Regions from separate parts of the Homo sapiens genome. Here region 1 is linked to region 2. The links come from fine-mapping of genetic effects on gene expression. A gene starts in region 2. The other region holds a variant in brackets. All regions are shown on one strand. Distances are from middle to middle.

Region 1 (4,390 bases), 35 kb before region 2:
GGCCTCCCAAAGTGTTGGGATTACAGGCATGAGCCACCACGCCCAGCCTTCTTTATTTTTAAGATGGGGTCTCGCTCTACTGTCCAGGCTGCAGCTGAGTTTTAGCTGACCAAACTACTTCTCTGTTGTGGCAAAGGCCTGTGCAAATGGCCATTTAACACTGTTGTTCTGTCATCTTCCCCATCTCAACCTGCTTTTGTTGTTTCCTATCAAGATACACTTAGCAAAACCCCCAAAGACATCCAGAGCTTCTGAGGTACCTCTGTGTACCTCAGTTTTTCTCCCTGTGCTGTGAGAGCCATGCTGTCTGCCACTCTGTGGGCTCACAAGTATAACTTACTACTGTAAGTATAAGTAGTACTATGTTCCATACAATGAGAAGACTTGGAAATAAATAGAAAATGTGATCACGGCTCACACCTAGAAATTTACATAAAGTGCTCAGACTTCAACAAGTGGCCCTGGGGAGGGAGAAGGCTGAGAGGTAGGAAGAGATGGTGTTGGGCTGGGCTAGAGTCTCTGAAGGTAGGGATTTTCATTCTGTCCTTTGGCTTCATCTCTTCCACTGAAGCAGCAGCACTGGCCGGGGGTAAGGGAATGAGCTTCGCTGGGCTGAGTCTTCACATCCAGGCCTCACAGTGCTCAGCCCGGGGCCTGGGTCTCCCCCAGTCCCACTCTACTGCTTGTTCCCCACTCCATCAAGGTCCCAGAAAGTCTGTTTGTCAATCAGCAAGGGATCCCAGTCCCAAAGTGATTTTAAGATCAAATCTAAGATCAAAGTACCCAGTTATCCAAGCAGCAGTGTGATTACACCTTTCAATCTGTGAAAAGGGGTCACGTTGATCACTTCTTGATAGGAGCTCATGGGTGCCCTTGGGTAGCTCCCAAATGAAAACTTGGCTGAAGTGACTTTACAAATGGCCAGTTGTGCCTACAGGCTGGACAGATGGTGGGGGGCCCCTGGGGTGAGCGACGGTCCAATGCCTTCAATAAGGTTGTTCCATTGATTATAGTCTTCTTTCAGGTCTGAAAAGGAAAAAAACAGGAACATTAGGCAAATCATTGTGAGGTTTGGTCAAAGAGTAGCTGACATGCATTGAAGGGGTCATCCTAGAGAGAGGAGCGCCTGGGATACCAAAAGGACTGGTTTTGGTGGGGTTGTGTGGTGGTGGCGGTAACGATAACTATCATTTATTCAGTGCCTTTATAAATGACTTACATAATCCATAACAATTCAATAACGATAATAATAACAGAGGGTAACATTTATTGATGGAGAATTCATTCTAAGGATTGTACTAAATGCTTTACATTCATGGTTTCATTTAATTTTCACCATATCCCTATGAACTAAGTATTAATACTAATCTTATTATGTAATTCAGGAAACTGAGGATCAGGGAAGCTACCTGAGTTGCCCAAGGTCATTAGAGCTATTAAGTGGTAGAGACAGAATTCAAATCCAAGTCAGAAAGGCAGAGAGGGCTGGGCATGGTGGCTTATGCCTGTAACCCTAGTGCTTTGGGAGGCTGAGGCAAGAGGATCACTTGAGGCTAGGAGTTCCTAGACCAGCCTGGGCAACGTAGCAAGACCTCAACTCTACAAAAAAATTAAGAAATTAGCTAGGTATGGTGGTGTGTGCCTGAAGTCCTACCTACTCAGGAGGCCAAGACTGGAGGATTGCTTGAGGCAAGGAGTTGGCGGCAGTGAGCTGTGATAATGCCACTGCACTCCAACCTGGGCAACAGCAAGACCATGTCTCAGAAAAAAAAAAAAAAAGGCTGAGAAAATGAAAAGTCTAGTTCCAGGCTCAAGGAGGTTACTAGGCAAAAAGCAGTATCTGACAGCTCAGCCTGTGGGTGCAAATCCAGGA[C/A]CACTTCAGTGAAGGGCAGGAGCAAGAGGACAGCAACATCATGGAGCAGCGAAACTCCAGGAATGACTCAAGAAGGGGCCCTGAGCTCACAGCCAATAGGGGTAACTACACGGCAAGAACAGGCACAAAGGGTCCAAGCCCTCAGGCTGAGGGAGCAGGGCAAGCTAAGCAGATGAATGGTGTCCTTCCTCAAAACAAACAGACTCTGGGACAGAAGGCAGGGACCACTCTCATGCATTTTTGGATTCCCAGTGCCCTGCCAGGAACCTGGCACGGAATAGGTCCTCAATGTATAAGTACTACATAGTCATTAATTCAAAAAACAATAAGCACATCCACTATGTGCCACACTCTGTTCTTTGAGCTAAAAATATATCCACAAACAAAACAGATGGAAACTGCTGTCCTCACAGAGCTCATCATCTAGTGGCAGAGACAAACAATAAACATAATAACTATATAGGATGTGAAAAGGGGAGAGGTGCCATGGAAAAAAAATAGAGCCCGTTAAGGGAAGCACTGGTGGTGGCCAGGGGTTGGAGTGAAGGGAGAAAGGAAGGACCCAATGTTTTTTGTTTGTTTGTTTTTTCTTTGAGATGGAGTCTTGCTCTGTCACCAGGCTGGAGTGCAGTGGTCAATCTCGGCTCAACGCAACCTCTGCCTCCCAGGTTCAAGTGATTCTCCTGCCTCAGCCTCCTAAGTAGCTGGGACTACAGGCATGCACCACCACACCCAGCTAATTTTGTATTTTTAGTAGAGACGAGGTTTCACCATGTCGGCCAGGACGGTCTCGATCTCTTGACCTTGTGATCCGCCCGCCTCGGCCTCCCAAAGTGTTGGGATTACAGGCGTGAGCCACGGTGCCTGGCCAGGCCAATGTTTTAAAAAGGGTGGTCAGGGTGGGCCTCACTGAGAAGGTGAGATTTGAGGCCAGGCTTGAAGGAAGTGGGAGTGTGCCACGAGACTATCTGAGAGGAATGTTCTAGACAGAGGGAGGAGCAGTGCAAAGGCCCTAAGGCTGCAGCGTGCCTGGCGCGTTCGAGGCTCATGTGGTGAGAGTGAAGTGAGCCAAGGGAAGAACAGCAGGGGAGGAGGCCAGGAGGGACTGGAGGGCCACATGACATATACCTGGCAGGATAATCGAGTCTGGCTTTGGCTCTTAGGGAGACTGGGAGCCACTGGAGAATTCGGAGCAGAAGAGTGAGAAGATCTCACTAAATTCCTAAAAGGATCACTCTGGCTGCTCTATGAAGAAAAGACTCTTCAGTGCTCGCTTTGGCAGCACATATACTAAAACTGGAACAATACAGAGATGAGCACGGCGCTTGCACAAGGATGACATGCAAATTCGTTAAGCTTTCCATATTTTTAAAGAGAAATAAATAATAATACCATGATTGAGGAAGCCAAAATAATAAATAAATAAATAAAATGACTCTTCAGTAAAGTTTCAGGATACAAAGTTGGTGTACAAAAATCAGTGGTGGTGATTTTTCTGGGTGCACTGGCTCATGCCTATAACACCAGCACTTTGGGAGGCTGAGGCAGGAGGATCGCCTGAGCCCAGGAGTTTGAGACCAGCCCAGGCAATAAAGTGAGACACTGTCTCTATAAAAAACAAATGAAGAAACAAACAAAAATATCAGTAGCATTTCTATACACCAATAACAATCAAGCTGAGAACCCAATCATAAACTCAATCCCATTTGTAATGGCCACCAAAACAAAAACAAAAACAAGAACAAAACAAAACAAAACCTAGGAATACATTTAACCAAGGAGGTGAAAGATCTCTACAAAGAGAGCTACAAAATACTGATGAAAGAAATTGTAGATGACACAAACAAATGGAAAAAACATCCCACACTCATGGAATGGAAGAATCAATGTTGTTAAAAATGACCATAATGCTCAAAGCAATTTACAGATTCAACGCAATTCCTATTAAACTACCAACGCCATTTTTTACAGAATTAGAAAAAAAGTCCTCAAATTCATATGGAACCAAAAAAGAGCCTGTCAAAGCAACCTTAAGCAAAAAGAACAAAGCTGGAGGCATCACATGACCCAACTTCAAATTATACTACAAGGTTATAGTAACCAAAAGAGCATGTTACTTGTATAAACACAGAAAAATAGATAAATGAAACAGAATAGAGAACCCAGAAATAAAGCCCCCATACCTACAACCAACTGATCTTTGTCAAAGTCAACAAAAATATATACATGGGGAAAAGATACCCTATTCAACAAATGGTGCTGGAAAAATTGGATAGCCATATGAAGAAGAATGAAACAGGACCCATATCTCTCAGCATATATAAAAATTAACTCAAGATGGATTAAAGACTTAAACATAAGACTTGAAACTATAAAAATCCTAGAAGAAAAACTCTTCTGGACATTGGCTCACGCAAAGAATTCGTCCTTAAAAGCAAATGCAACAAAACCAAAAACAGACAAATGAGACTGAATTAAACTAAAAAGCTTATGTACCACAAAAGAAACAATCAACAG
Region 2 (4,390 bases):
GCTATAATCCCCATGGCCACCCAGAAGCATGTTCCTATCACTAGACTTAATGTAGTGCCCTGCATATAGCTGGTCTCAATAATTAATTTATCCAATGAATACTATTTAATTTTTGGCACACTTATGCCTCATCTCTTCAGATCTACTCCGGGGGTAAAGATTGGGTTTTATATTTTTTTGTAGACCAAACTGTCTATCTGCATGCTTTCCCCATATAGTTGGGACTCAATAAATGTTCCTTCATTTGGCTATGATTTAAACCCATCTCAAGTCTTCTTTAATCTTTGTTTTTGATCTAAAAATAAGGCTATATGAAATAATGGGGGACAAAGGTTTTGATGACTCTGAATTCTACCCCTGTCACTTATTAGCTGTGTGATCTTGAACAAGTTCCTCAAACTCTAAGCTTCTGATAATTTATTCTCACAACAGAAATAATAACTATGGCCAGACGCAGTGGCTCATGCCTATAATCCCAGAACTTTGGGAGATCAAATGGGAAGGATTGCTTCAGCCCAGGAGTTCAAGACCAGCCTGGGCAACATGGCAAAATCCTGTCTCTATAAAAAAATTAAAAAAAAAAAAAATTAGCTGGATGTGGTGGTATGCAACTGCAGTCCCAGTTACTCAGGAGGCTGAGGTAGGAGGATTGCTGGGGCTTGGGAGCCGGAGGCCACAGTGAACCAAGATTGTGCCACTGCACTTCGGCCTGGGTGACAGAGCGAGGTCTTGTCTCAAAAAGAAATAGTAACTATGGGCCGGGCGCGGTGGGAGGCCGAGGCGGGCGGATCAGGAGGTCAGGAGATCGAGACCATCCTGGCTAACACGGTGAAACCCTGTCTGTACTAAAAAAAATACAAAATATTAGCTGGGCCTGGTGGCGGGCGCCTGTAGTCCCAGCTACTTGGGAGGCTGAAGCAGGAGAATGGCGTGAACCCGGGAGGCGGAGCTTGCAGTGAGCCGAGATCGCGCTACTGCACTCTAGCCTGGGCGACAGAGCGAGACTCCATCTCAAAAAAAAAGAAATAGTAACTACTCACGAGATTGTTGATGAGGATTAAATAATGCATGTAAAGCACTCGATGGATAGAAGGTACTATAACCATAGGAGGCAACTATAATTATTTTAACTACATGCCTCTCAAGTTCCTTATACGTAAAATGGATACTTCGTAAGTGAAAATATTGCCTAGGGCCTGGTGCATTTTCAGTGCTTATAAAATGTTAGGAACTAATTAACAATGCTATGTCTCTCTTTCCTAGCCAAGGTCTCTCATTTTTCCTGGATTAAGCCCTTTGGCAAAACAGATTCTTTCCCAGCAGCCTTTTCAGGCCTCAGACACCCCTACCAAAGCCAGTGTCTACTGAACAGGCCCAGAGGAGCCCAGAGGGAATGGATGGGGCTTAGGTTGCAGCTGTCCTCTCCTGCTGGGACCCTGTTTCTGGTGAGCAGAGGACTGCTGCTCTGCCAGCTGTGTGACACTTTCATCACTGGCTATTTCAAGATACAGTCCAAGATAAGCACTTCTCTTGTGCTTCCTTTCAGACAAAGCTCTCTGAAGACTAAAAGCTCATTGGCCTGACCTTTGGTCTCTGGAGGAAGTGAGGAAATATCATCCAGCTCGTAGACAATGAAGACACCAAGCACTCGAGGGATGAGATTGAGCAACAAGGTGGCAGAGCTAGAGAAGAGGCCTGATAAGAGTGTTCCAGAGCATTAATAATTGTGATAAAAATAATCTCTGTCTCTTGTGAAGGTCTTACAGTTTACAAGGCATCTTCACACATACTAGCTTGTTGGCTCCTCAACACTCCTCACCTGAGACTGATGGAGCAACAGTCATCTCCGTTTTAGAGAGGAAGAAACTGAGTCCCAGAGTTGTATGATTTGCCCAAGGTCACAGAGGGTGAGAGGCAGAGCTGGCCTAGAACCGGGTCTGCTGACTTCGAGTCCAGGGTAATCGCGGATCGGAAAGAAGGAATGGGGACCCTTCTTCCACCGCCATGAAAAACAGAAAACTGAGAGTAAGAGTAAAGTACACAAAGGGTGGAGGAGCATAAAGAAGCCCGGGGTTCAGGGATGTGAGGCTGCAGGGTGAAGGTAGGGCCGAGGAATCAGGGTAGGGCTGTGGGGTCCAAGGTGGGGCTGCGGGGGCTGGGTCCTGGGACGGGAGCTCAGTGGGGATTCCAGGGGCACTGGCCGTTAAAAGTGCGAGGCGACCGTGGGAGGGTCAAGGGAGCGGGTGGCTACAGGTGTCTGAATAGGAAACGTAAAGGACGAAGATTAATGTGCAATTCCTATGACTGAGAGACGCCGAGGCCCCAAACCGGGCCAGAATACAAAAGTCTGCAGGAAGCTCAATTGAGATATAGGTGTTTTCTCCAATCAAACTTACCCAGTCAAGCTGATTCCTCAGAAGCAGCCCCAGACGTTTAACTCGACGGAAATGAGAAACGACCCATGAACCCGTGGCCCTTTGGTCGTCGTAGTTTCCAAGGCTCAAAATGGACGCTTGGAAGCACTTCTCGTTCCTCAATCTAGAACTACAATTCCCGATGTACAGTGCGCGAGATTGCGCATTACAACTCTAAAACTACACCTCCCAGAGTTCTACGCGACCGTCCAGCCCCGCGTGGTCGTGCGAAACCGCCCAAGGCCTGGGATGCGGTGTGATTCCTCCCCCTGGTGGCCTGAAGAGGTGCCGCCGCGATTTCTGCTCTCGAGCGGAGGGTTTTGCCTTAGTCCCGTGCGTAACCCTCCGCCTCACCCTCCTCAAATAGTCCTCAGGCGTGCCTAGAAATGGTCCCCGCTTCGCTTTATTCTCAAGGAGGTGGGAGGAGGTTGGAGTTTGTTTTGTGTCTTCTGCACACTTTGCTTCCTGTAAGAATAATAGACTGATCATTCAAATTAAGGGGACATTCCCTACCAGCCTGCATCTGTTGACACCTGTGATTTTCCATTGTCCTCAAAAGACTCCCTGGCAGAGAAAGGGGAGGAACCCGAGTAATCTGCTGGGCCGCATCCATCCCACATTACTGTCTAATGCTGGTTCTTAGCGACACTGATGGACAAGATACCGCTCCTAGCCTCAACAGAATCACAGTCTAGCAGAGAATTCAGACAAATGAATAATGACAGCACAGAGCCGTGATCTCATGGGGAGACACAGCAAGCGTGGGAGCCTTGAAAAGGGGCCTCTGGCCAGGCTTGGGGGAAAAGGGCGGTGTCCGCAAGGCTTTTTAGAGGGAGTGATGTTTGTTAACATTGAGACCCGATATAAGGAAAGAACGTAGCCAGGAGTACAGAGACTGTGAAGGACGTTTCAGAGTATGGCATTAAGTTCAGTGCTGGCTGCAGCTAAGTGTGAGGGATGGAAGGAGAGTATTCTCGGGGGAGTGGGCGTTAGGCAGAGCCCATCCTCAGGAGTTCTGTAAACTTCTATAGGAAATTTGGATCGTTCAGGCAGCTCAAAAACGTTCAACGGCCCTCTACTACCTATGAAGTGAAGTCCCAACTGCTTAGCCTGACATTCAAGGTCTTCTCCAACCTGCACTCCCCCACGCCCCACCCCCCACCCTTCAGCGCCCCTCCTCTGGGAGCTTTGTTCATGCCTCCAAAGTTTCCGCCGACATCTGTGTGTGCCTCGCACATGTGAGTCGACTCACACTGCCTTGGGTATCTCCTGTATTAGAGGTCTTAACTCTTGACACATTGTGAGCTCTTTGAGGTCAGGTACTGAGTCCTGCAGTCGCCCCCTCCACCCTACTCTTGCAGCCCACATCCCCCCGAAACACCAGGGTCCAGAGTCCCTGCTTTAGGCTCTCCTCTCCTGCCGACACACTGTTGTCACCCCCATCCTTCCAGGAGCCAAGATAAAGTCATCAGGAGAGAGTGCTGGCAGCCCTGCACTGTGGTAATTAAGCCTCGGATCTCATTAAATCTGTGGCTGATGGCGGTGGCCACAGAACCTGAAAAGCTTAGCGCAGATCAGAGAGCGGCTCCCTTTGGCCCATTAATCCGTGCTGTGCAGCTGGCCAGAACACTCACGACAAGCCAGAGGTCCTTGGTCATGAGAGGGACAGCTGGAGGTCATTTCTTTCAGTCTCCTACTCCCAGACCAGGCCATGCTGGAGCCATTTGCTGGCCAGCTGAGTTTAAAATTTCCCAGGGATGGGCATGTCACCACCTCCTTTACCTCCTTTGTCACAGTTAGGAAGCTCTTCCTTGGGCACAATCAGATTCTTCCCTGTTGCAAAATAAAACAGTTGAGTTTAACTATACTTCCTTCCAATCCGGTCTTTTCTAGGATAAACAACCCAAATGCCTTTACCTTTTTAAGCAAATGGTTGATTTTCCAGCATTTTCATCATAGATCTCATCCTCCAGTAG

Alleles and levels. Positions count from the first base shown, and alleles are read on the strand shown. Sizes are in standard deviations (SD) of each study's normalised expression.
In carriers of allele A in region 1, the expression in transverse colon of the gene that starts at base 2,435 in region 2 tends to be lower than with C alone (small effect, 0.12 SD a copy in GTEx).

What was found. PIP is the estimated chance that this variant, and not a neighbour inherited with it, causes the effect. A credible set is the group of variants that fine-mapping cannot tell apart.
Region 1: its variant is the best candidate, but not a certain one, in a credible set for the expression of PAFAH2 in transverse colon (GTEx, PIP 0.64).

What each region holds. Positions count from the first base shown.
Region 1 is chr1:25,961,058-25,965,447 of GRCh38, forward strand. It overlaps PAFAH2 (platelet activating factor acetylhydrolase 2), which reads right to left. Exons shown (of 11, transcript NM_000437.4): 11 at 1-1,026. The coding sequence ends at 932. It also overlaps the pseudogene RNU6-110P. Among named protein-coding and RNA genes, the nearest start is that of PAFAH2, 35 kb to the right of the region's middle. The variant C/A (reference allele first, on the strand shown) is at 1,874.
Region 2 is chr1:25,995,629-26,000,018 of GRCh38, forward strand. PAFAH2 (platelet activating factor acetylhydrolase 2) reads right to left here and starts at 2,435. Exons shown (of 11, transcript NM_000437.4): 1 at 2,397-2,435. RefSeq lists enhancers at 2,181-2,260, 2,431-2,520, 2,531-2,580.